Regions from separate parts of the Homo sapiens genome. Here all the other regions are linked to region 1. The links come from fine-mapping of genetic effects on gene expression. A gene starts in region 1. Each other region holds a variant in brackets. All regions are shown on one strand. Distances are between the middles of the regions. Region 1 holds the start of LMNTD2 (lamin tail domain containing 2). Region 2 overlaps PIDD1 (p53-induced death domain protein 1). Region 3 overlaps PHRF1 (PHD and ring finger domains 1). Region 4 holds the start of LOC124902603 (a long non-coding RNA gene). Region 5 has its middle 3.0 kb from the start of ANO9. Region 6 has its middle 5.6 kb from the start of HRAS.

Evidence for each region.
Region 2: its variant is fine-mapped to the expression of LMNTD2 in sigmoid colon (GTEx, PIP 0.97).
Region 3: its variant is fine-mapped to the expression of LMNTD2 in whole blood (TOPMed, PIP 0.95).
Region 4: its variant is fine-mapped to the expression of LMNTD2 in lymphoblastoid cells (TwinsUK, PIP 0.91).
Region 5: its variant is fine-mapped to the expression of LMNTD2 in whole blood (TOPMed, PIP above 0.99).
Region 6: its variant is fine-mapped to the expression of LMNTD2 in whole blood (TOPMed, PIP above 0.99).

What each region holds. Positions count from the first base shown.
Region 1 is chr11:558,566-562,642 of GRCh38, reverse strand. LMNTD2 (lamin tail domain containing 2) reads left to right here and starts at 1,905. Exons shown (of 14, transcript NM_173573.3): 1 at 1,905-1,960; 2 at 3,664-3,787; 3 at 3,877-4,029. The coding sequence starts at 1,927. It overlaps RASSF7 (Ras association domain family member 7), which reads right to left and starts at 1,673. Exons shown (of 6, transcript NM_003475.4): 1 at 1,166-1,673; 2 at 751-881; 3 at 1-564. The coding sequence starts at 874. It overlaps LMNTD2-AS1 (LMNTD2 antisense RNA 1), which reads right to left and starts at 3,381. Exons shown (of 2, transcript NR_147607.1): 1 at 3,167-3,381; 2 at 2,537-2,864. RefSeq lists an enhancer at 295-870.
Region 2 is chr11:799,304-803,380 of GRCh38, reverse strand. PIDD1 (p53-induced death domain protein 1) reads left to right here. Exons shown (of 16, transcript NM_145886.4): 3 at 1-207; 4 at 490-699; 5 at 784-838; 6 at 985-1,186; 7 at 1,291-1,416; 8 at 1,757-1,936; 9 at 2,016-2,163; 10 at 2,261-2,396; 11 at 2,469-2,619; 12 at 2,715-2,838; 13 at 2,930-3,048; 14 at 3,137-3,250; 15 at 3,367-3,566; 16 at 3,816-4,077. The coding sequence ends at 4,074. Among named protein-coding and RNA genes, the nearest start is that of SLC25A22, 3.1 kb to the right of the region's middle. The variant G/A (reference allele first, on the strand shown) is at 2,228.
Region 3 is chr11:594,441-598,516 of GRCh38, reverse strand. It overlaps PHRF1 (PHD and ring finger domains 1), which reads right to left. Exons shown (of 18, transcript NM_001286581.2): 7 at 1,497-1,594; 8 at 947-1,122; 9 at 15-144. Among named protein-coding and RNA genes, the nearest start is that of IRF7, 19 kb to the left of the region's middle. RefSeq lists an enhancer at 2,517-3,016. The variant C/T (reference allele first, on the strand shown) is at 2,482.
Region 4 is chr11:654,574-658,656 of GRCh38, reverse strand. All of the region lies in intron 10 of DEAF1 (DEAF1 transcription factor), which reads left to right. It overlaps LOC124902603 (a long non-coding RNA gene), which reads right to left and starts at 3,634. Exons shown (of 2, transcript XR_007062543.1): 1 at 3,090-3,634; 2 at 1-1,683. The variant G/A (reference allele first, on the strand shown) is at 2,134.
Region 5 is chr11:443,001-447,083 of GRCh38, reverse strand. No RefSeq gene overlaps it. Among named protein-coding and RNA genes, the nearest start is that of ANO9, 3.0 kb to the right of the region's middle. RefSeq lists an enhancer at 3,675-4,083. The variant G/A (reference allele first, on the strand shown) is at 1,768.
Region 6 is chr11:527,904-531,986 of GRCh38, reverse strand. It overlaps a transcript of LRRC56 not described here. Among named protein-coding and RNA genes, the nearest start is that of HRAS, 5.6 kb to the left of the region's middle. RefSeq lists an enhancer at 2,945-3,482. The variant A/G (reference allele first, on the strand shown) is at 2,020.

The DNA.
Region 1 (4,077 bases):
GCCCAGGGGCCTCCGCTGCCAGCTGCAGCTCAGCCTCCAGGGCACGGGCCTGAGCGTCCAGGGCCTGCAGCCGGGCGGCATGCTCAGCAGTGGCCGCACTTAGTGCCTGCAGGCGTGCCTGTCCCTCTCGCTCCCGGGCCTGCTCCCGGCGCAGCTCTTGCTCCCAGAAGGCCTCATGGCCCAGCTCCTCAGCATTCCTCTGCACCCTGAGCTCCAGGCCCCGCAGGTCTGTGCAGCAGCCTGGTGTGGGTGTCACAGGGGCCGCAGGCCCAGGGCGTGAGAGGCTGGGGGCTGGCTCGGGGGTCAGTGTTTTGCGGGGCTCACAGCCCAGCGCAGCCCGTGGCTTTACAGGGAGGCTGGCACGAATTAGGCAGCGTTCCGGGGGTGGACAGCTGTCTGAGGAGGGCCTCCCAGCTAGGCTGGGCCCTGTGCGCCTCAGGACAAACTGGACATCGCTGGCAAACTGTCCGCAGGTGGCCTGGGCGCCCACTGGACACTCTTGTGGCAGCAACTGCCGCTCCTTCTCCCGAAGCCGCTGCACAAGCACAAAGCGGCCAGTCTGGCCTGGGAAGAAGAGGAGAAGGTCAGCCTATGTCCCCCCGACTCTCTGTCCACCTGGCTTGAAGAGTTGGGAAGAACAAAAAGGATCAGCAACCAGCCCCACTCTCCTTGGGGGAGACCATGGAGCTGGACCACCAGGTCCCACTTCAGCTCTACCTGCCCGGCCTGCCTGACCCCGAGAGGACTCACCTATTGCTTGGGCTAGTGCGATGACCACTTCCTGGCAGGTGGTCTGCTCTGAGACCCCACAGACCACACGCTGGATGCCATCCACCCACACCTTCAGCTCCATGGCCGCCAGTCCCAACAACATGCCTGTCCTGTGGGGAGGGCGCAGGCACCGGGTCAGGACCTGCCTACTCCTATCGCAGGCTGGTCCTCCTCTCCTCATCCTCTTGGCCTGCCCTAGAAACGGCTGGGCTGCCGCCCCTCCGCACGGGCCCCACCCTCCTGTGCCAGCCCCACCCGCCAGCCACACATTCCTGGGGTGGCGGCCCTCCGGAGCACGCATCCTCCCCCACTTCACCAGCTTCCTCTTGCCACGCTCGCACTCCCGGAACAAGGCGAATCATTAACCAGATCCAGCATTTCCTACTCGCCTCACCTGGCTCGGAGGACACTGCCCCCTCCCCGGGCGGCGCGGAGGCGCCCGCACGCCAGGCCCCGCGGCCGCCGGCATGGGAACGCCCCACCCCGACCTGCTCAGGCCGCAGAGGCGCTCGGGGTCGCAACCCAGACCTCGACCCTGCAGATGGAGCAGACTCCGGGTCTGAGCAGCCCCCGCCAGCCCGGGGAGCCCCGCCGCTGCCGCCTAATCGCTGCGCTCGCCCCGAAAGTCCCGGTCCCCGCCGCGGGCACCGAAGCCCGCGCCGCGACCCCAGCCTGGCGGGAGCCAGGGCGTCCCCGTTCCGCAGGGCGGGCGCAGGTGCGGCGCCGCCCCCGCTCTCCGTCCGGGCATCGCGGAAAACTCTCCCCAGTTGGAGTCGGCGTCCGGCCGGCTCGAGGCGCGCCCCGCGCTCCCAAGTACCGGGGACCCGGCGCGGCTCACCTGGGCGCTCGCCAGCCTGGAGACCCGCTCCGGCGCCGCCGCAACCTGCCGCCCCCAGCGCCGCGGCGCACCCGGGCCCCGCGCCCCCATTGGCCCGCGGTCCGCACGCCCCGCCCCTAGCACCCCTATTGGCTGCTCAGCGCGGGCGTTCCGCCCCCTCCCCGCGCCCATTGGCTGCCTCTGTCACGCCCCTCCCCGACCCATTGGCTCGTCGCCGCGCCCCGCCCCCCCCGAGACTACAGGTGTGGGCGGGTCGGAGGGGGGCGCCGAGCCGCAGTCCCCGCCCCCACCTCCCGCCTACCGCGAAAAACGCGGAAATGCGGTGGCTGCGGCCCGCGGGCAGGCGTCGGGGTAGGTGTCTGGCCCCGCTCCTGGGCCGACTTCCTCAGCAGCCTTCTAGTGTGGCGGGTTCCCGCCCAGGAAGGGTCTCTGGCTTGAGATCCCGCAACCCCCGCCTGCGTCCAGGGGCAGCGGGGCCAGCCCCTCCCCTCGCTTCCCGGGCCAGCCTTTGGGGCCTACCGCAGCTGCAGTAGTCTGGACGCGCAGGGGTCGCGGGGTCGCAGGGTCACCAGTCCCGGCGAGGGAGGTGGAGCCCTGCGGAGCTGGCGGGCGCAGAGTCCTGGTGCGGGAGGTGCCCGCTCAGAAGGCCCGGACTCTAGCTGAGGCTCTTCTCCGACACCTTCCTGCCCCTTTTGGACCCAGTGCCAGGCCATGCACACAGTGAAGCTGGCTGGAAGCCGCTCCTTCACCCCCTACCCTACTGTCCCGCCCAGGGCCCCGCAGCCTCGCGGTCAGCTGTGTGGGCCATTGATTGTTCTGCCCAGCTCAGAAAGAGTTGTGGGCGTGGGCCTCCTGCCCGCCTGTCTCCTGTGCTCCCCCAGGGAGCCCTTACATAGCCGAAAGTTGCAGAGATGAAGGGTGAAAGCTGGAATGATTGGGTTTTAATGGGTCAGGTCTGGGACCTGGCTTTTCTCCTGGAGCAGAGGGAATACTTGTCATGGTAATGGGGTAGCCCAGAGGGTGTGGACACGGCTGGGAAAAGTGAGGCTTCAGTTTGGGGGTCAGGTAGGTGAGTGCCTGTCACTGAGGTCAAAGGAGCTGTGGGCTGGGCCTGGCGGTGGAGGCGGGTGCCTGTAGTTTCAGCAAGTCAGGAGGCGGAAGTGGGAGGATCACCTGAGCCCAGGAATTCGAGGTTAACGTGCGCTGTCATCACACCGAAGCATTCCAGCCTGGACAGCGGAGCAAGACCCTGTCTCTAAAGAATTAATTATTAATTTAAAAACAGGCTGTGGGCAGGAGTGTACTATTGCCAGTTAGCGTTCAGCACAGTCCCCAGCTTGTCACTGTTACCTGTCTGCTTCCCCCACACACCCATGGCTATGCTGGGCTGGCTCACAGGCAGCAGTGCCCCCCTATTTATCCCGCTGCTGCTGCCAGGCTAGGTAGGGGATGCTGGGGCCTCCCTCAGGGTGTTGGTCACTAAGTGGTCCCCCCGCTAAGCTGAGCAGTGGCTCAGCCTCTCACACCTCCTCCAGGCTGGGCTGGCCCAGAACTCACCTAGGGGCCTGGTCTGGGGTCTCCCTGGAGGCTCCTGGTAACAAACAGCCCCACCCCTTCTGGGTGCTGGTATCCATGGCAACGGTATACAGCCCTTCCCTCCCAGGCCTGCTTGGAGGTCGGGCCTCAGGTGAGTGCTGGGGGTAGGGCCCTGAGCTGGGGGGACAAGAGAGAGAAAGAGGGACACCACATCACAGGCAAAGGGCCAGCACCTGGGTGGCAGGGGTACACGCCAGGGACATGTCGGGTGGTGACCTGCTGCGCCAGCCTGGTCAGAAACACACGGGTGTGGACACCCACATGTGGGTCCCTTCAGAGAGCAACGCTCTGTGAGTAAGTGGTGACGCCTGGGCTGCTCCAACCTGTGTGGCCACACGAGGCGCACACGGCAGACGGGCCCCCCACCCCTCCCAGCTCCCGAAGAACATTGAGAATGGCCCCCAAGTCTGGCCAGGAGGTTGAAGAAACCGAGGAAGAGGCTCTCCTGTCCCCCACAGAGCAAGAGTCGGTCAGTGGTCACCTGGGACCTCCAGCAGGCGCACCTGCAGCCCCCGAGACTCCCACGTGCCTGCCAGACACCACGCCCCACCCCGCACCGGTGGTCTGCTCTGCCGACCCGCAGTAAGGAGGAGAGGGAGGACTGGTGAGCCTCCTGGGCCAGGTGGCCAGGGGCCGGCCTGAGTAAGCAGCAGGGTCTGCTGCCGCTGCAGGTTGGCTCTTGAGTCCCTGGACCCTCGCACACTGCGGCTGCTGTGGAGACAGCGAGAACTGGAGATCCAGGCCTTGCGGTGGGCCATCCAGAATGGCGAGGACGCCCGGCTCTGCCACATCCTGGAAGAGGTGGCGGGGCTTCCGCCCAAGAGGTCTGCAGCACAGTCCCCAGCCCAACCCAACCCCGCCCTGTCCTCGCC
Region 2 (4,077 bases), 240 kb before region 1:
GGGCCCTCCCCGCCCTCACCTTCCTCACAGTGACACACAACCGCCTGCAGACGCTGCCCCCAGCACTGGGGGCCCTATCCACCCTGCAGCGCCTCGATCTCTCTCAGAATCTGCTGGACACGCTACCTCCTGAGATTGGAGGCCTGGGCAGCCTCCTGGAGCTCAACCTGGCCTCCAACCGGCTGCAGAGCCTCCCAGCCTCTCTGGGTGAGTAGCCCCTGCGCCCCGACACACTGGCCCCACGGGAGGGTCCCTGAAGCCTGCCTGTCTTCTGCAGGGGCCTCTGCACCCACAGGCTTGGTCCACAGCTGCCTCTTGGTTGTCCCTCCACCTCCCTGGCCTTTGAGACTCCCTCAGTGGCTTTGTCAGAGTTCTCTGAGCCCAGCTGTGGAGGAGAGTCTGAAACAGCTGCTCTGGGAGGCGGCAGCAGGAGTGTCCCAGCGCCGTGGGCTGGGCTGGTGCCAAGCCTAAGCCAGCAACTGCCCGCAGCGGGACTTCGGTCCTTGCGGCTCCTTGTCCTGCACAGCAACCTCCTGGCCTCTGTGCCAGCTGACTTGGCCCGCCTTCCACTCCTCACCCGGCTCGACCTGAGGGACAACCAGCTCCGGGACCTGCCCCCTGAGCTGCTAGACGCCCCCTTTGTGCGCCTGCAGGGGAACCCCCTGGGTGAGGCCTCGCCAGACGCCCCGAGTTCACCAGGTAGGCTTGGTGCTAGAAGGGGCAGACCTGGGATAGGACATGAGTCTCCTCACTGTCCTGAGCACATGTCTGTCCCCTGCACAGTGGCAGCCCTCATTCCAGAAATGCCCAGACTGTTCCTGACCTCAGATTTGGACAGGTATGGGGTGGGTTGAGGGGGCTGGAGGGGAGTCTGTCTGCCTGTCACTCTGGCCCCTCCGACACCTTCTCCAGAGTTCCTGGGTCCAGGCTCCAACACGTAGGCCCTTCTGGGTCTAACCTGTTGCTCGCTCCTTCCTCACTCAGCTTTCCTGTGACCCCTCAAGGCTGCTCAGTGACCCTGGCCTGTGGCGTCCGCCTGCAGTTCCCAGCGGGAGCCACCGCCACCCCCATCACCATCCGCTATCGGCTGCTGCTGCCGGAGCCAGGCCTCGTCCCCCTGGGTCCTCATGACGCCCTGCTCAGCCATGTGCTGGAGCTGCAGCCCCATGGGGTGGCCTTCCAGCAGGCATGGACAGGGCGTGGCGGGGGCAGTGTGTGGGCCAGGGCATGGCAGGGGCAGTGTGCGGGCCCGGGCATGGCTCCAGTGCTCACACCATCCTTGTCTGGCAGGATGTGGGGCTGTGGCTGCTCTTCACCCCACCGCAGGCCCGGCGCTGCCGTGAAGTGGTGGTCAGGACCCGGAATGACAACAGCTGGGGTGACCTGGAGACCTACCTGGAGGAAGAGGCACCCCAGGTGAGGGCCACCCAGGCCTGCCGGTGGCGAGTGGAGAGCTGCTGCCCTGAGCCGTGCACCTCTGCCCAGAGCCTCACCCTGGCACCTTCCACCCTGCCCCGTCCCTCCTGGATCCTGCTTCCCTATGTCCCTGGCACCTTCCACCCCACCCCGTCCCTCCTGGATCCTGCTTCCCTGTGTCCCTGGCAACTTCCACCCCACCCCGTCCCTCCTGGATCCTGCTCCCTGTGTCCCTGGCACCTTCCACCCCGCCCCGTCTCTCCTGGATCCTGCTCCCTGTGTCCCTGACTGGCTGTGCCCTGACCCAGGCTCCTGTGACCTCCTCTCTCCCCCATCCCAGCGGCTCTGGGCTCACTGCCAGGTGCCCCACTTCTCCTGGTTCCTTGTGGTTTCCCGCCCTGTGTCCAATGCCTGCCTGGTGCCACCGGAGGGGACACTGCTGTGCTCCTCGGGTCATCCTGGGGTCAAAGTCATCTTCCCCCCTGGGGCCACTGAGGAGCCTCGTCGAGTCTCCATGCAGGTATGGCCAGGACAGCACTGAGGGTGGCAGGCCGCGCCTCAGCCCACAGGCAGGTGCTCAGGGGGCCTGTCTGCCCCAGGTGGTGCGCATGGCTGGCCGAGAGCTGCAGGCCCTCCTGGGAGAACCAGAGGCTGCAGTGAGCCCCCTGCTGTGCCTGTCACAGAGCGGTCCCCCCAGCTTCCTCCAACCGGTCACCGTGCAGCTGCCTCTGCCCTCTGGCATCACAGGTGAGAGGCAGCCATGGGGCATACCTGGACCTGTGGCCATAGGGTGGAGGGGGTCTCCGGCCAG[G/A]AGGCCTCAGCTCGCTGCCCCTCCCATCCCCAGGCCTCAGTCTGGACCGCTCCCGCCTGCACCTGTTGTACTGGGCCCCTCCTGCAGCCACCTGGGATGACATCACAGCTCAGGTGGTCCTGGAGCTCACCCACCTGTACGCACGCTTCCAGGTCACACACTTCTCCTGGTCAGTGCCCCCCAGCTTTCTCAGCCCCCCTCCCCCAGTCTGTACAGCCCTCCTCACCCCCAGCTCTCCCAGGTACTGGCTCTGGTACACCACCAAGAACTGTGTGGGAGGCCTGGCTCGGAAGGCCTGGGAGCGGCTGCGGCTGCACCGTGTGAACCTCATCGCTCTGCAGCGGCGCCGGGACCCTGAGCAGGTCCTGCTGCAGTGCCTGCCCCGAAACAAGGTGGGGGCACGGGCCGGAGGGCAGCAGGGTGGTGACCAGAGGGCTGGGGTGGGGTGCAGAGCTTTGGGTCCTGAGCTGCACGGGCTTCCCCGCAGGTGGACGCCACCCTTCGGCGGCTGCTGGAGCGGTACCGGGGCCCCGAGCCCTCTGACACGGTGGAGATGTTCGAGGGCGAAGAGTTCTTTGCGGCCTTCGAGCGCGGCATCGACGTGGATGCTGGTAGGGATGCTGGTGGATGCTCCCTGCCCTGGAGGGGGAGCCTTACCGTCCTCCCCGAGCCCTCCTTGCTCAGCCCACCCCTGTCCCCTAGACCGCCCTGACTGTGTGGAGGGCAGAATCTGCTTTGTCTTCTACTCGCACCTGAAGAATGTGAAGGAGGTATACGTGACCACCACTCTGGACCGGGAGGCTCAGGCTGTGCGGGGCCAGGTGGGCGAGGGGAGTGGGTGAGGGGAGAGGCCCCCCAGGCCGCTTGGGCAGAGGACCGAACTCCGAACCCCATTCGATGCCCCTTCAGGTGTCCTTCTACCGTGGCGCGGTGCCTGTGCGGGTGCCCGAGGAGGCTGAGGCTGCCCGGCAGAGGAAGGGCGCAGACGCCCTGTGGATGGCCACTCTGCCCATCAAGCTGCCGGTGGGACTGAGGGACAGCAGAGGGGCGGGGCAGGACCGAGGCCCAGGGGTGACCAGGGTGACATGGTGGAGTTGGGGGTGGAGCCCAGGGCTTAATGCACTTTTTCCTTCCAACAGAGACTTCGAGGGTCCGAGGGGCCACGGCGGGGGGCTGGCCTCTCCTTGGCACCCTTGAATCTGGGAGATGCCGAGACCGGCTTTCTGACGCAGAGCAACCTGCTGAGTGTGGCTGGGCGTCTGGGTCTGGACTGGCCAGCCGTGGCCCTGCACCTGGGGGTGTCCTACCGGGAGGTGCAGCGCATCCGGCACGAGTTCCGGTGAGGCTCCCACTGCCCGCTGGCTGCCAGCCCCAGGGCTGAGCCCTGGCTGCCTGGAGGGCCCACCTGATTCTGACAGAAGTTTCTTCCAGGGGAGGTGGGGGAAGGGCAAACACCAGGCTGGAAAGGAAAGGTCTGGCCGCACCTGGCCCCAGGAGCCGGGAACTCCCCCACACTCCGAGGCAGAGTGTGGTGGGGGGTCCTGGGCAGGTGGACAGGACCCCTCTGTCGCCCATCCTCTGCCTGCAGGGATGATCTGGATGAGCAGATCCGTCACATGCTCTTCTCCTGGGCTGAGCGCCAGGCTGGGCAGCCAGGGGCTGTGGGGCTCCTGGTGCAGGCCCTGGAGCAGAGTGACCGGCAGGACGTGGCTGAAGAGGTGCGCGCAGTCTTGGAGCTCGGCCGCCGCAAGTACCAGGACAGCATCCGACGCATGGGCTTGGCCCCCAAGGACCCCGCTCTGCCTGGCTCCTCGGCTCCACAGCCCCCAGAGCCTGCCCAGGCCTAGGCC
Region 3 (4,076 bases), 36 kb before region 1:
CCCTTCAGGCTTACTTGTCTTCCTCTTCCGTCGGGCGGGAGTGCGCGGCGTCAGGGGGCGCTGATACACGGCAGTGCTCAGGCCAGTCGCCACAGCCTCGATGGCTTCATCCAGCAGGGAAGACCCGAGGCGCCCTGGTGTGTGCTACAGGCAAAGGGGTGGTGCCGTCAGATGCCCTTGGGGCCTCAGCCGGTCCAGCACAGACCCCAAATGGAGCCCAGAACACAGCCCACAATGGCAGCCAGAGAAGCAGGACAGCCTCCCCACCCGCCACTGCAGCAGCCACGGCCCGGCCTTCCTCTCCCCTGCCAGAGGCTGCCAAGCACTCCCACGGGGGCAAGGCGGGTGGGGGACAGACAGCATCCCAGGGGCACACGAGAGGGCACCAGTCACTGTGGCGGGGGTGGCGCAGGTACTGGGCAGGGCACTGGACAGGGACAGCCCCCTCCCCACCCAGCCTTCTCAGTCCACTCCAAATTCAGCGTTAGGCTTGCCAAGGGCACACACCACATGCCCACAGCCCAGACCCTCCTGCTTGTCCAATGCCCAGGGAAAGGCTGCTGTCAGGACGGAGGCTGCAGGGAGCACCTGAAACCGAGCACCAGGTCCAGTGCAAGAGGAAGGTGCTCACAGGTGCCTAGAGGGAGCGGTGCTGGCATGGGGCCTGGGGAACAAGGGGGGTTTCCTAGAGCCCCCACCCCGCCAGGGCCAGGCTTCACCTGCCCCTCAATACCTGGCTCCAGGTGCTCAGAGGCAGCCCCACCTTGGGCCGCTGGGGTCACCCTGGGGTGCACTCATCTGCTCCCCTCAGCAGGCCGAACAACATGAGCCACCGGGGCCGGGCGGACCCCACAGTGCCGACGACGCCCCTCCCACCCACCCAGACTGCCGAGATCACTCTGGGCAGCTGGGGTTCTACGACTGGCGTCAGGGCTGGGCCACCCACCTGGACCCTCCTGGCCGTGGAGATCCGGTTCCGGTTCACGGTTGCTCTCACTCTCTCACTCTGCCGTGTCCTGGCTATCGCCCGGGTCCTACCTGCTCGAGGCCGAAGCCTGCTGGTGGTGGGCACCACATCAGCCAAGAGCAGGGAGACCTCCTCCTCACTCACGGGACCCGCATCTGGGAAGAACCACCAGGGCTGATGTGCCACACTCACAGGCCACACGCCTCCCCCAACGGCTCCCCCTGTGGCTGCCGGCCAAGTAGCAGCCCTGGCTCGGGCTGACCTGTGCACAGGACCCAGGGCTGCTCATGGAGCCTGGTGCTCCTAACACTGAGGACCGGAACCCCCCAGCCAATGGACCCCACACACATCCCCGAGAAGACGAGCCCGAGACAGCCCTAGATGTCCTCCCGACACCGCAGCCAACCCTAACCCCCATGAGACAGCCCTAGATGTCCTCCCCACACAGCAGCCAAACCTAACCCCGGGGACCGCAGAGTGGACAGTGAGAAGGCCCATGTGCGCCTTGGGACGGGAGCAGTGTCCTTACCAGCGGCAAGGACAACACCAGGCGCAGCACATTCCGGGCAGAACCACTCGTCCACCGGCACCTCCTGGAGAGGGGGGTCCAAGCATTCCATGTGGTACCTACAGGAGAGAGCAGGGCCAAAGCATCCGGGTGCTGCTCACAGCTTTCCCAAACCTCCTCAAGTGAGGGGACCACAAAGCAGGCCTCCGATGGCACCCAAGTCTGCGATGCATTCTGTTATGGGCTGACCCACATCCCTCCAAAATTCATAAGAAGCCCTAACCCCCAATGTGACAGCAGATAGACATGGAACCTTTAAGGTTATAGGATTGGTGTCCTTAGATGAGGGAAGGCCAGGTGAGGTCACAGCGGGGAGGCGGCCGTCTGTAAGTCAGGAAGGGGGCCTCCCCAGGAACCAGGCCTGCTGGTATCTCAGATGTCTAGTTTCCAAAACCAAGAAAAGGAAGACCTGCGGTTTACGCTGCCCAGCCTGTGGTATCCTGACAGCAACTGAGCTGGCTGCGACACACGACACACACCCACAGGCCGACAGTGGCTCACACTGAGCTCCTGCGGTAGGTGCTGCCTGTGGGGCCCCCTTCCCAGAGAGCTTGTCTCCCCCACCCTCACTCCCGGGTTTTCAAACATTGCACCTCACACCAAGCCACTGAAGAAGGCGAAGGTTTCTTTGCTGAAAGGAAACTATGTTTTAATTGTTTCTATCGAGCCTTCTGGGAAGGTAGTTTGGGAAGTGCTGCCACTGGTATGAGGTATATGTGCCCCTCCAAGCAGCCGAGGCTCGGGAGTCTATGCAAAGATCCTTGAAACTTCATCCCAAAGACCCCAGACAGCCCTGAGTAAGGCAAAAACAATCAAGGGAAGGGAGTCAAGCTGATGATTTCCCTGAAAATTGAGCCTGAATTCAACTGAACTTAACTACCACTTACCACGGGCTGAACTGTTCTAGGATCTAAGATACGAGTTAAACAAGAGTAAACCCATTCTC[C/T]CAAGAGTCCTGCACCTATGAGAAGGTGTCTGCTGTGTGGCCCTTGCTAGGGCCATACAAGAAAGACAGGAGACAGGCATGCAGGAAGAGAAGCCGACTGCCCCGGGCACACGACACGCCCTGCCAGGCCAGCAGAGGGGGGCGGCGGGTGGGGGCACTCCAAGAGCCTAACTAGGTCCCCTAACATCTGTTCTTATACAAGTTCTCTGGGGACAAAGGCAAGGATGAGCAGTACCTTCTTTCAAAGAATTCCAAAGTCTGAAAACGTCCAACCCACTTTCCCACCACTGAGCTCCAGCAGCCTTGGAGGAGGCTGCGGCTCACCTGAGGCCCGAGCAGAAGGCCCCTCTGCGCCTGGCAGGCGCCCATCCACAGCCAGGCCAGGCCTGTGTCCCCCACACTCATCCCCGAGAAGAGGAGATTGGCTGCAAGTTTAAATACGAGCACGGGGACAAGGAGGGCTGCCGAGACCTGCCCAGCTACGGTGCAGGCACCCATGGCTCCACCTGCACAGGGAGCTTGGTGGCCCTGCAGCTGAAGGTGCTCAGATCTGACCTGCCCAGGGAGGGGAGGGCCACACCTAACAGGCCTCAGTGAGCCCCTGCACTGCCTCCCTGGTGAACACACACTTTTAAATTAGATTGTAACTTAAAAAAGAAAAAAATCAGAAACTGTATCTTATTTCATGTAATGTCAGTGTATCTACAGATAGTGTTTTTTTGTTTTTTGTTTTTAGTCTCTCTGGAGTGCAGTGGCGCAATCTCGGCTCACTGCAACCTCCGCCTCCCAGGTTCAAGGTATTCGCGTGCCTCAGCCTCCCAAGGATCGGGGGTTACAGGTGTGAACCACCACGCCCGGCCAATTTTTTTATTTTTAGTAGAGACGGGGTTTCGCCATGTTGGCCAGGCTGGTCTCGAACTCCTGAGCTCAGGTGATCCACCCGCCTCGGCCTACTGTGATTCCATTTTGACATGAGGAACTGAGTAATTTTAGACGTGTGATTTTTAAGTCAGACTTAACTGAAAATTTGGCAGACTGCAAATTGTAACAGTATGGAAATGTTTAGAAGTATGAGAATCGTTATATTGATCAGTTTTAATGTTTTAGATCCACCAGGGTTTTTATGTACTTGCGTTGTTTTATCTGCCAAGTAATTCAAGTAGTGTAGGTAGAAAGAAAATCAATATATCAAGTTTGTAAATGTAATTTATAATAAAAAATTTTAATTAAGCTGTAAACATTCCCAAGAGCCTTGTTAGAAGGTACTACAACTAGGTTGGGCATAGTGGCTCACGCCTTTAATCTCAGCACTTTGGGAGGCCGAGGTGGGCGGATCAATTGAGCCCAGGAGTTCCACACCAGTCTGGCCAACATGGTGAAACCCCGTTTCTCCATAAAATACAAAAATTAGCCAGGTGTGGTGGCATGTGCCTGTAATCCCAGCTACTGAGGAGGCTGAGGCAGGACAGTCACTTGAACCTTGAACCGAGGTTGCAGTGACTCGCTGCAGAGGTTGCAGTGACTCGCTGCAGAGGTTGCAGTGAGCCAAGATGGCGCCACTGCACTCCAGCCTGGATGACGGACCAAGACTCTGC
Region 4 (4,083 bases), 96 kb before region 1:
GCAATGCCAGCTGCTTGGCAGCATGAGCTTCTTGGGGCGCCTGGGCAGGCCTGGGCACTTCTGCCCTTTGTGCCATCCGCAGTCCTGTGATTTCCTGACAGTTTCCTGAAAGCGCAGAATGGGACTTGTCGATGTCCTTGGCTGCGGAAACGCGGTGTCTTGTCCTAACCTTCTGCAACGCACACACACCTCTTCCGCAGTAATGAATGGTTTTTTGTTTTTGTTTTTGAGACAGAGTCTAGCTCTGTCACCCAGGCTGGAGTGCAGTGGCGCGTTCTCGGCTCACTGCAAGCTCCACCTCCTGGGTTCATGCCATTCTCCTGCCTTAGCCTCGCGAGTAGCCGGGAGTACAGGCACCCGCCAACACGCCTGGCTAATTTTTTTGTATTTTTAGTAGAGACAGGGTTTCACCGTGTTAGCCAGGATGGTCTCGATCTCCTGACCTCGTGATCCGCCTGCCTCAGCCTCCCAAAGTGCTGGGATTACAGGCGTGAGCCACCGTGCCCGGCTAATGAATGGTTATTTTAAAAAATAAACGTATTTCGGGATAATTTTAGGTTTACAGAAAAGTTGCAAAGTGAGCGCAGAGGGTCCCTTCTGCCACTCCGCAGCCTCCCCTCTGTAACTTCAAAGCCCACAGGGCATGGCTGTTGTAGCTGAGAAACCGTCGCTGGGTGTCCCTGTGAACTCCGGACTTTGAATTTCACTATCAATGTCCTGTTTCTGCTCTAGGACCTTGTCCCCGCTGCCACCTGTGGGAGACAGCCTCCCGTGCACCATTTGCCCAGCACCCTCAGGCCTGTGACGGTCTCTCAGTCTTTCCTTGTCTTCCATGCCCTGCAGTTCTGAGAGGGCCTGGCCAGGCAGTTTGTCCAGGTGCCCCGATCCAGGCTTGTCTTGTGCTTTCTCGTGGGGGTGGACGACAGGTTTCAGGGAGGGGTGCTGCCGCCTGTCTCACCCCACTGTGGCGTCCCTGACATCCAAGTGACATTACAGACAGCTCTGACCTTCCTCACCAGAGTCAGGTGTCTGTAGGTGTCTCCTTGGTGACAGGACTGCTTCTCCCTTTGCACATTTAGTCAGGCAGCAAGTCCACGGCCGTGGGGGGGCTTCTCCTAGACGGGAGGATCTGGAATAGCTTGGACTTGTATTTATTTATTTGATCATTTGTTTGTATCCGGATGGGCTCATTTTATATGTGTTTTAAACTCTGAGCTAGAAGGCAACACTACTTTCTTGTGAAGCACACCATCTGTCCTTGGCCCTAGGGAGCTCCTGCCGTCGGCTCCTGGGTCCCCTGATGCACCCCTTTCAACAGACTTTTCATTTTGGGGTACGTCCTGACTTCCTGGCACTGCAGGGTGCTCCAGCCTCCTCTTGCATTCCCTGCCCTGGCCCGGGAATCAGCCCCTTCTCCAAGGAGCCCCGGGTCCTTTTATTGGCAAGTCTTAAGAGAGTGAGGCCTGGGTGCCAGGCAGGGAGCCCCAGGTCCTTTTATTGGGAAGTCTTAGAGAGTGAGGCCTGGGTGCCAGGTGGGTGCCAGGTGGGTCCGGTGCTGCTGGGATGTTGTCACGTGGAGGCCCTCAGCTGCAGAGCAGGGACGAGGGTGTCACCTGTTCAGCTGCAGAGCAGGGATGAGGGTGTCACCTGTGTGTATGAACATCTCCGCAGCCACTTCTGTATCTGTGAAGAGAACATGAGTTCATGCTACTGCCTCTGACTCTAATTCAGACCCCAAAGCTCCTTCTAACCTTCCTAGAACGTTATTTTTCAGTTTAAAAAAAAAAAAAAGTTTTGCAAAGGGCATACCGCGAAAGGCCCAAGTGGTTGAAAGTCCCAGCTGAGGCTGAAGAGGCGCCTGCGAGGCAACAGGACAGGCTTCCCGTTCAGTTCAGGGGTGCTGTCCTCCAGGAACTATGCTGGGGGGCAAGTACAGGACGTCCTGGTGTGTGGTGCACAGGGACTGCTGGACACGGAGACCCGTGCCCTTCTCAGCGTGGGGGCCGCTCCCCGGGACAGTGACCACGCTCCCGCCAGCCTCCCACCCCACCTGACCTCTGTCTGTGAGGGGCTGGACCAGGGTCCTGCCTGGCCCGGCCATCCACAGAGCAACCCAGAATGTTAATAAAGCCT[G/A]CAGAAGCTGTGTTCTCCTTCGAGAAGCTTCTCTGTGGTTACAGACTTTTTAAGAAATATTTTGTCGGCTGGGCTTGGTGGCTCATGCCTGTAATCCCAGCATTTTGGGAGGCCAAGGCAGGCGGATCACCTGAGGTCAGGAGTTTCCGAGACCAGCCTGGCCAACAGGGCAAAACCCCGTCTCTACTAAAAATACAAAAATTAGCCAGGCATGGTGGCAAGCGCCTATAATCCCAGCTACTTGAGAGGCTAAGGTGGAAGCATTGCTCGAATCTGGAAGGTGGTGGTTGCAATGAGCTGAGATCGTGCCACTGCACTCCAGGCTGGGCGACAGAGCGAGACTCCATCTCAAAAAAAAAAAAAAAGTTTGTCATTTAAAGTAGAGGCACAGGCCAGGCGCGGTGGCTCATGCCTGTAATCCCAGCACTTTGGGGGGCCGACTCAGGTGGATCATTTGAGGTCAGGAGCTCGAGACCAGCCTGACCAATATGGTGAAACCCCATCTGTACTAAAAATACAAAAAAATTAGCCAGGCGTGGTGGTCCGTGCCTGTAGTCCCAGCTGTGGGGAGGCTGAGGCACAAGAATCACTTAAACCCAGGAGGTGGAGGTTGCAGTGAGCCGAGATTGCGCCACTACACTCCAGCCTGGGCGACAGAGTGAGACTCCATCTCAAAAAAATAATAATAATAATAAATAAATAAAGTAGAGGCAGGGGGCAACCTAAATTAGCACCAAAATTCCTCCTAATGCTCCTGTTTTCTGAAGTGAGTGACTGAATGTCGGAGCTCTGAATGTCTTACAACTGGAAAAATGTTAAAGATCACGTTTGCGAAGGAGGGAGGCAAGCATCAGAACAGAACCTCGGAGCAGGTCTGCACGCGTGCAGGGGCCGTGGGGCCGCGCTGGAGTCGTTTCCTGTGCTGCTCTGTGCTGCTCACAGACGCTGCCACTCACCCACTGGCCACGGCCCCTCCCGCAGCTGCGGATGATCTGGGCGCATAGCGGGCGTGCAGGTCGCGGCGCCAAGGCCTCTCCTAGGCCCAGTGGTCTTCTCCGTCTCAGAGAGCATTGACGGCGGAGCTCACAACTGTCAAGCACCTTAGTCATGCCGCAAACATTAATCATTGACAGCATGTTGACCTATGCGCTGATTAAAAAGAAAAGCTCCAATAATGTAATTCCAGGAGAAAGTACACAAACCTCTGGTGGCATCTTTTCAATCCACCACAGAAACCAGCTCAGGTGGGGCCGTGGGGGTGTTGGCTGGGGCACCGCCGCAGCAGTTTGGGACACATGCCTGCCACGGTGCGCCCAGGCTGATGCCCACAGCCCTGCTCAGGAGTGTTGGGAGCGGTGGACTCCTGAGTTTGATTTTCTGTGCTGGCCTGGCTGGAGTGAAGCTCCTTGGAGTTTGGAGAAAGATTTCCATGCTGATTTCCCTTTGTTTTTGTTTGTTTGTTTGTTTGTTTGTTTTGGAGACAGTCTTGCTCTGTCGCCCAGGCTGGAGTGCAATGGTACAATCTCGGGGTTTCACCGTGTTAGCCAGGATGGTCTCGATCTCCTAACTTCGTGATCCGCCCACCTCAGCCTCCTAAAGTGCTGGGATTACAGGCATGAGCCACTGCATCCGGCCCTGATTTCCCTTTTTTTTTGAGATGGGAGTCTCGCTCTGTCACCCAGGCTGGAGTGCAGTAGTGCAATCTCGGTTCACTGCAACCTCCGCCTCCTGGGTGCAAGCTATTCTCCCACCTCAGCCTCCCAGGTAGCTGGGATTACAGGTGGCCACCACCACACCCAGCTAATTTTTGTATTTTTAGTAGAGACTGGGTTTCGCAACGTTGCCTGTGCTGAACTCCTGACCTCAGGTGATCCACCCGCCTCGGCTGCCCAAAGTCCTGGGATTACAGGTATGAGCCGCTGCTCCCGGCCCATACTGGTCTTCCAGTGA
Region 5 (4,083 bases), 120 kb after region 1:
CCATTGCAAGACGTGGGCCTGAGGGGCAGGGGTGAGGCCGGAGGTTTGTGGCTCAGGGAGCACCGTGGCTGGTGAGGAGGCAGTGGAGCAGCTTGGAGGACTTGGTTCTTTGAGGCCCCAGAGCAGCAGAACTGGGGGTCCCCCGCCTGGGGAAGGGTGCACGGGACAGAAGCCTTCCTCAGCTGCAGAGATGCCTGCCAGAAGCCTCAGGGCGCTGGAACTTTTAAGAAAATGGTCAATTCTGGCCTTACCCAGGGACAGAGCTGGCCAGAGTCACATTTATGGTGGTAAATAGTGAATGTTGGCGAAATGCTTTCTAAAAATGCCCTTGCAAGGAAGGGAGAGGAAGCCTAGGAATTTGTAAAGTAACAAATGCCTGTTGTAATATTTCCCCTGGTGCGGTAAATCCATAAAGGTGAGTGGATTACAGAAAAACTCACCGTGCCACACGCACACCTGTGCCCGGGAGTTTTCTCTGGCTTGTTGGAGGGAGCGTGGACAGCAGGACTGCTCCCCAAGTCAAGATGGTTAAGGCCTGGAGGTGTTGGGGAGGCAGCAAGGAGACAGAGTTGTCCCTGCAATGAGGACGGGAGGGGTTTGGGTCCCCACCCCAATGCCACCCTGGTGTGGCAGGCAAGGATGGCTTCAGGTGGTCCTCAAGGGCAGAGGCCCAGCTGGGAGAGGGTCTCCCCTGCAGGGGCTTCAGGCTGGGGGTCGCCTGCCAAGCACTGTCAGCCAAGAGAGGCTGGAGCCAGCAGGGTGCCTGAGACCAGCCCAGAGAGAGTACAGGGGCAGGTTCTCAGAGGCACCGACTCCAGCTGACCCAGAGGGGCTGCCTCTGAGCAGTGCCTGGACGAGTCTGCTCGTCCAGACACTGTGTCTGTGTCTGTGGCCGCGCCCAGGAGGCTGTTGGGGGCGGGGGGGGAGGACAGGTCTCTGAGGGGCCCAGGGCAAAGGTAATGACAATTGGTGCTCACACCTGCCTGTGGGATTTCACCTGGGCGCTCCCTAGCTCTCGCTGGCTTTGTCACCCGGACCGCTCCACGGGTGGCTGCCATATCCCACAGTTAAAAGGAGGCTGCAGGGACGGAGGAGCTGCCTCTGCTGCATGTTGGGCCTCAGGGGGAGGCGGTCTGGTGGACGGGGTCTTCTGAAGTGGGAGGAGGAAAGGCAGAGGAACAGGGTCCAGGGTCCACAGAGGAAGAGCAGGAGGCCCACGGGGAACCTCGACCAAAGTTCTCTGCCAAGGCAGGGCAGGGCCACCTGCCAGGACGTCCAGGCCAAACTCTTGCCTCTTCAGGAGCTGCACTCAAACCCGGAAGCCAAGAGTCAAGCTGAGTCTGGGGGAAATAAAGTTTATAATAATAGACTTGAATGTGGAAAAATAAAGCAAATTTAATAAGTTTATTAAAGTGTGATGTGTTTGTGTTAGAATATTTGAAAACAAACATAATGAAGAAAAGCATAATACCCCATCCTTAGTTCACATTGTTAAGCAAATGTAAGTATCAAATATCAGTCTACTCTTCCCATATTTTAATGCCCCTTAGCTACGTTTACATAAACATTTTATACATGTTTGTGATAGGAGCATCAAACCACCATGGCACACGTTTACCTGTGTAACAAACCTGCACGTTTTGCACACGTATCCTGGAACTTAAAGTAAAAGAACATTAAAAAAAAATTAATCTCCGCCAAGTGCAGTGGCTCATGCCTGTTATCCCAGCGCTTTGGGAGGCCGAGGCGGGCGGATCACCTGAGGCC[G/A]GGAGTTCAAGACTAGCCTGACCAACATGGTGAAACCCCGTCTCTACAAAAAATACAAAATTAGCCGGGCGTGGTGGTGCATGCCTGTAATCCCAGCTACTTGGGAGGCTGAGGCAGGAGAATCATTCGAACCCAGGAGGCGGAGGTTGTGGTGAGCCGAGATCCTGCCACTGCACTCCAGCCTGAGCAACAGAGCAAGACTCCGTCTCAAAAAATAAAAAGAATAAATAAATCTCTTTTAATCTAGGAAAAATTTTTATATGTTTGTAGTCTGTTTTTTTTACTTAGCAGTATAACATAAGCATTTTCCTATGTTCTCAAAAACTCTTTGAAAGTATAACTTCTAATGTCTGCTTAATCAGCATATAAATATGAATACCATGTTTTCGCTGATATTTTCCTATTGTTGAACATTGGTGGTTTACAATTTTTGCTGCAAATGACATATATACATATTTTCATTATTTTGCATTTTTTTAGAACAGTTTACAAAAAGTTAGATTAATGAACCAAAGTCTAAACAATTTTAAGGCTCTTAATACGTATTATAGCTGAATTGCTTTCTGAAAGGGCTGTACTGGTTTTCTGTCCAGATAGGACTGGGTGGGGTCCCCCTCCCTCTCCACCCTTCACTGATCGTAAGGGAACTTCCACGCTGGGTGAGGCCAGCGGCCAATGCAGCCGCCTCGCTGAGCTCTCTCCCCTGAAGCTGGATATGCTGGCTTTACAGCCAGGACTCTGGAAGTGACTGAGGATTCCTCTGGTGACGCCCACGGAAGGTGTGGGGGGAGGAGGAACAGTGTTTCTGCAACGCAACTGGGAATGCTGAAAAAGTCATTGAAAGAGAGCACAGCAGCTGTGTGGACACTTGAAGTGGCGCCTGAGTAACTCACATGACCTGCTAGCAGATTGTTTTAACACACTGAAAACGTGGAGATTGTTTTATTATTTATTTATTGATTTATTTATTTTGAGACGGAGTTTCACTCTGTCACCCAGGCTGGAGTGCAGTGGCACGATCTTGGCTCACTGCAACCTCCACCCTCCGGGTTCAAATGATTCTCCTCCCTCAGCCTCCTGAGTAGCTGGGATTACAGGCGCCTGTCACCACGCCTGGCTAATTTTTTGTATTTTTAGTACAAATGGGGTTTCACCATCTTGGCCAGGCTGGTCTTGAACTCCTCACCTCGTGATCCACCCACCTCTGCCTCCCAAAGCTCTGGGATTACAGGCATGAGCCACCGCACCCAGCCGAAGATTGTTTTAACACAGTGTGAAAACATGAGCACAGAGACCCCTGAGCGGGCTGAGCTGGGGACTGGGGAGCGACACCCGTCACGGACGGTGCAGGGGCTGGGAACGTGGATCTTGCGTGTGAGTTCCTCCCATACTCAACAAGCCTTGCACATTCTGTTTCTGAACTAGATCTAACTTGGCAGCTGTGACCCCCTGGTGAGACTGCCGGATGTTCCCTCTCCCGCTTACCCTGCTTTCTTCCATGGGAAAAGAGCTCACATGCCCCAGGCTTCCTTGCCATAGAGTGTGGTCACGTGACTAACCATGTGAAGGGTGAGGTTCCCTCCTTCGCCCTTTCCTCTTCCCACTGGCTGGAACGTGGATGTGATGACTGGAGCTTGAGCAGTCATTTTGGACCAGGTGCTGGGACCATGTATTTAAGGTGGCAGAGCAACAAGCTGAAGGCATTCTGGGTCTCTGATGACTATAGTTCGGCCATACTAGTCCAGGACTAGCCAACTCCAGATTTTTGTTTTGCTTTGTTTTAAAGACAGAGTCTTACTCTGTCACCCAGGCTGGAGTGCAGTGGTGTGATCTTGGCTCACTGCAACCTCTGCCTCCCAGGTTCAAGCGATTCTCCTGCCTCAGCCTCCCGAGTAGCTGGGATTACAGGCGTGCACCACCATACCTGGCTAATTTTTGTATTTTTAGTAGAGACGGGGTCTCACCATGTTGGGCAAGCTGGTCTCGAACTCCTGACCTCAGGTGATCCACCCGCCTCGGCCTGCCAAAGCGCCGGGATTACAGGCATGAGCCACTGCGCCCGGCCAACTCCAGATTTCACTTATAGGAGAAATACACAGCTTGTTTAAGCCACCACCATTTTGCACACAGATCTGAATGTGTTCCATTTGGATTTGCCCCATCTGAGCTCACAGGTCCTCGGCCACCACTTCACTCGCTTGTCTTTGCCAAAGTGGCAAAGCTGTGGTCTCTGCTGCCATCCCAGCCTGCCAGGAGGTCCCCCAAGGAGAAACATGGGTGGGACCATGTTACCCCTTGGGGAAACCAGAGCCGACT
Region 6 (4,083 bases), 31 kb after region 1:
GGCGTCCTGGTCCTCCAGAGGGAGGTGGTTTCAGGGGTTGGGGATCTGTGCCGGTGGCTCTGGTCTCTGCTGGGAGCCTTCTTGGCGGTGAGAGGCATCACCTTTCCTGACTTGCTCCCAGCGTGAAATGCACCTGCCAAGAATGGCAGACATAGGGACCCCGCCTCCTGGGCCTTCACATGCCCAGTTTTCTTCGGCTCTGTGGCCTGAAGCGGTCTGTGGACCTTGGAAGTAGGGCTCCAGCACCGACTGGCCTCAGGCCTCTGCCTCATTGGTGGTCGGGTAGCGGCCAGTAGGGCGTGGGAGCCTGGCCATCCCTGCCTCCTGGAGTGGACGAGGTTGGCAGCTGGTCCGTCTGCTCCTGCCCCACTCTCCCCCGCCCCTGCCCTCACCCTACCCTTGCCCCACGCCTGCCTCATGGCTGGTTGCTCTTGGAGCCTGGTAGTGTCACTGGCTCAGCCTTGCTGGGTATACACAGGCTCTGCCACCCACTCTGCTCCAAGGGGCTTGCCCTGCCTTGGGCCAAGTTCTAGGTCTGGCCACAGCCACAGACAGCTCAGTCCCCTGTGTGGTCATCCTGGCTTCTGCTGGGGGCCCACAGCGCCCCTGGTGCCCCTCCCCTCCCAGGGCCCGGGTTGAGGCTGGGCCAGGCCCCTCTGGGACGGGGACTTGTGCCCTGTCAGGGTTCCCTATCCCTGAGGTTGGGGGAGAGCTAGCAGGGCATGCCGCTGGCTGGCCAGGGCTGCAGGGACACTCCCCCTTTTGTCCAGGGAATACCACACTCGCCCTTCTCTCCAGCGAACACCACACTCGCCCTTCTCTCCAGGGGACGCCACACTCCCCCTTCTGTCCAGGGGACGCCACACTCCCCCTTCTCTCCAGGGGACGCCACACTCGCCCTTCTCTCCAGGGGACGCCACACTCGCCCTTCTCTCCAGGGGACGCCACACTCCCCCTTCTGTCCAGGGGACGCCACACTCGCCCTTCTCTCCAGGGGACGCCACACTGGCCCTTCTCTCCAGGGGACGCCACACTCCCCCTTCTGTCCAGGGGACGCCACACTCCCCCTTCTCTCCAGGGGACGCCACACTCCCCCTTCTCTCCAGGGGACGCCACACTGGCCCTTCTCTCCAGGGGACGCCACACTCCCCCTTCTGTCCAGGGGACGCCACACTCGCCCTTCTCTCCAGGGGACGCCACACTCGCCCTTCTCTCCAGGGGACGCCACACTCCCCCTTCTCTCCAGGGGACGCCACACTCCCCCTTCTCTCCAGGGGACGCCACACTCCCCCTTCTCTCCAGGGGACGCCACACTCCCCCTTCTGTCCAGGGGACGCCACACTCGCCCTTCTCTCCAGGGGACGCCACACTCCCCCTTCTCTCCAGGGGACGCCACACTCCCCCTTCTCTCCAGGGGACGCCACACTCCCCCTTCTGTCCAGGGGACGCCACACTCGCCCTTCTCTCCAGGGGACGCCACACTCGCCCTTCTCTCCAGGGGACGCCACACTCGCCCTTCTCTCCAGGGGACGCCACACTTGCCCTTCTGTCCAGGGAATGCCACACTCCCCCTTCTCCCCAGCAGCCTCCGAGTGACCAGCTTCCCCATCGATAGACTTCCCGAGGCCAGGAGCCCTCTAGGGCTGCCGGGTGCCACCCTGGCTCCTTCCACACCGTGCTGGTCACTGCCTGCTGGGGGCGTCAGATGCAGGTGACCCTGTGCAGGAGGTATCTCTGGACCTGCCTCTTGGTCATTACGGGGCTGGGCAGGGCCTGGTATCAGGGCCCCGCTGGGGTTGCAGGGCTGGGCCTGTGCTGTGGTCCTGGGGTGTCCAGGACAGACGTGGAGGGGTCAGGGCCCAGCACCCCTGCTCCATGCTGAACTGTGGGAAGCATCCAGGTCCCTGGGTGGCTTCAACAGGAGTTCCAGCACGGGAACCACTGGACAACCTGGGGTGTGTCCTGATCTGGGGACAGGCCAGCCACACCCCGAGTCCTAGGGACTCCAGAGAGCAGCCC[A/G]CTGCCCTGGGCTCCACGGAAGCCCCCTCATGCCGCTAGGCCTTGGCCTCGGGGACAGCCCAGCTAGGCCAGTGTGTGGCAGGACCAGGCCCCCATGTGGGAGCTGACCCCTTGGGATTCTGGAGCTGTGCTGATGGGCAGGGGAGAGCCAGCTCCTCCCCTTGAGGGAGGGTCTTGATGCCTGGGGTTACCCGCAGAGGCCTGGGTGCCGGGACGCTCCCCGGTTTGGCTGAAAGGAAAGCAGATGTGGTCAGCTTCTCCACTGAGCCCATCTGGTCTTCCCGGGGCTGGGCCCCATAGATCTGGGTCCCTGTGTGGCCCCCCTGGTCTGATGCCGAGGATACCCCTGCAAACTGCCAATCCCAGAGGACAAGACTGGGAAGTCCCTGCAGGGAGAGCCCATCCCCGCACCCTGACCCACAAGAGGGACTCCTGCTGCCCACCAGGCATCCCTCCAGGGATCCCTCATTGTCCACAACTGCTGGAGAACAGAGGGCTCCGTGTCTGGCTGTCCCACAGTGAGCAGCAGTGAGCGCATCTGAAGTCTGAGCTGCTGAGACCCCCTCCTGCAGGAACCCATCTTCTGGCAAAAACCTGAACTGAGGATCACCCTCTGCCCACACCCACAGGGGCCCATCCTGGTGGCTCCTCCAGTGCCAGGCTCTGCCCCATCAGGGTCTGGGGTCTCAGCCAGATTTGTGTCCAGGGCAGGGAGGCTGCAGAGGTTAGGTTGGGTCCAGCACAGGACAGGGCTGGAGAGCACAGCCAAGGAAGGTCGGGTCCGTCTCCTCCCCTCTGACCTCGGACGTCTCGCCTGTCAAATGGCGTGAGTTCGTATCCACCCCACGGGGTCGCCGTGAGGTGAACGAGACAGTCATTTTCATAGTCCGTGTGGAACAGGCACCCGCTGAGTGCTCAGGGATGGCCCTTGGCAGCCACGTGGAGGCCAGCGCAGGCCACCTGTTAGTGACTGTCACCATACCATGGGGGAGGGCAGCTGTGTTGAGACCCACCTCTCACCTCCGGACGCAGAGCCCCCCCTCGGACACCCACTGTGTCTCCAACTGCTCCGCACACAGCCGGCACTTGGCACCGGTGACGTCATGGGGTGGCTGCACACATCACAATAGGGCCCCGCGCAGGTCAGCTGGGCCTGGAGTCAGCGTCCTCCACCCCCTGAACTGGCAGCATGTGTGTGCACGTGTATGTGGGTGAACGTGTGCGTGTGTGTGTTTCTTCTCCAGCTAGGCCTGGCTGCCCCACTAACGTGCACACAGGTCCTTGTCACTGTCACCCCCGTGGCTCGAGACGATCGTCAGAGCACCCGCGGAGGCACCACACTCGGCCCTCTCCACCCGGGGTGGTCCTGGGGATGCAGACGCGGGGAGGGGGTTGGCCCCCTTCCTCGGTGGACTCAGGTCTTCTGTAAAGGGCTGGGTTCAGTGTCCCTCTGTCTCACCTTCTTGAGCCCTGCTGGGTGTCATGAATGTCCCCCCTTGCTGGAGGCCCTGCGGACAAGCCCCCCTGCCTGAGGTCCCCTAGCAGCCAGCTGACCAGGTCCCACTGATTGACAGGCCCTGCTGGGCTGCCGAGGGGGTGGAGGAAGCCTGTGGGGAGGTGGGGGACTCACCTGTGTGACGTCAGCTTCTGTCCCGGGCGCCGCCTGCCCGTCGGATCACATCCCTGCTCAGGACTCGCCACCAGCTGCCTCCTTACGATGGAGTGATGGAGCCCTCTGATAGCTGAGAGTCCGCCACAGCGATCCCACAAGGCCACGCGTAAACTCTCCCAACATCCATCCAGGGAGGCCTGGATAAAAATGTAGAGTTTCAGGCCGGGCACGGTGGCTCAAGCCTGTAATCCCAGCACTTTGGGAGGCTGAGGCGGGTGGATCACCTGAGGTCAGGAGTTCAAGACCAGCCTGGCCAACACGGTGAAACCCTGTTTCTATTAAAAATACAAAAATTGGCCGGGTGCGGTGGCTCACGCCTGTAATCCCAGCCCTTGGGAGGCCGAGGCGGGCGGATCACCTGAGGTCAGGAGTTCGGGACTAGCCTGACCGAC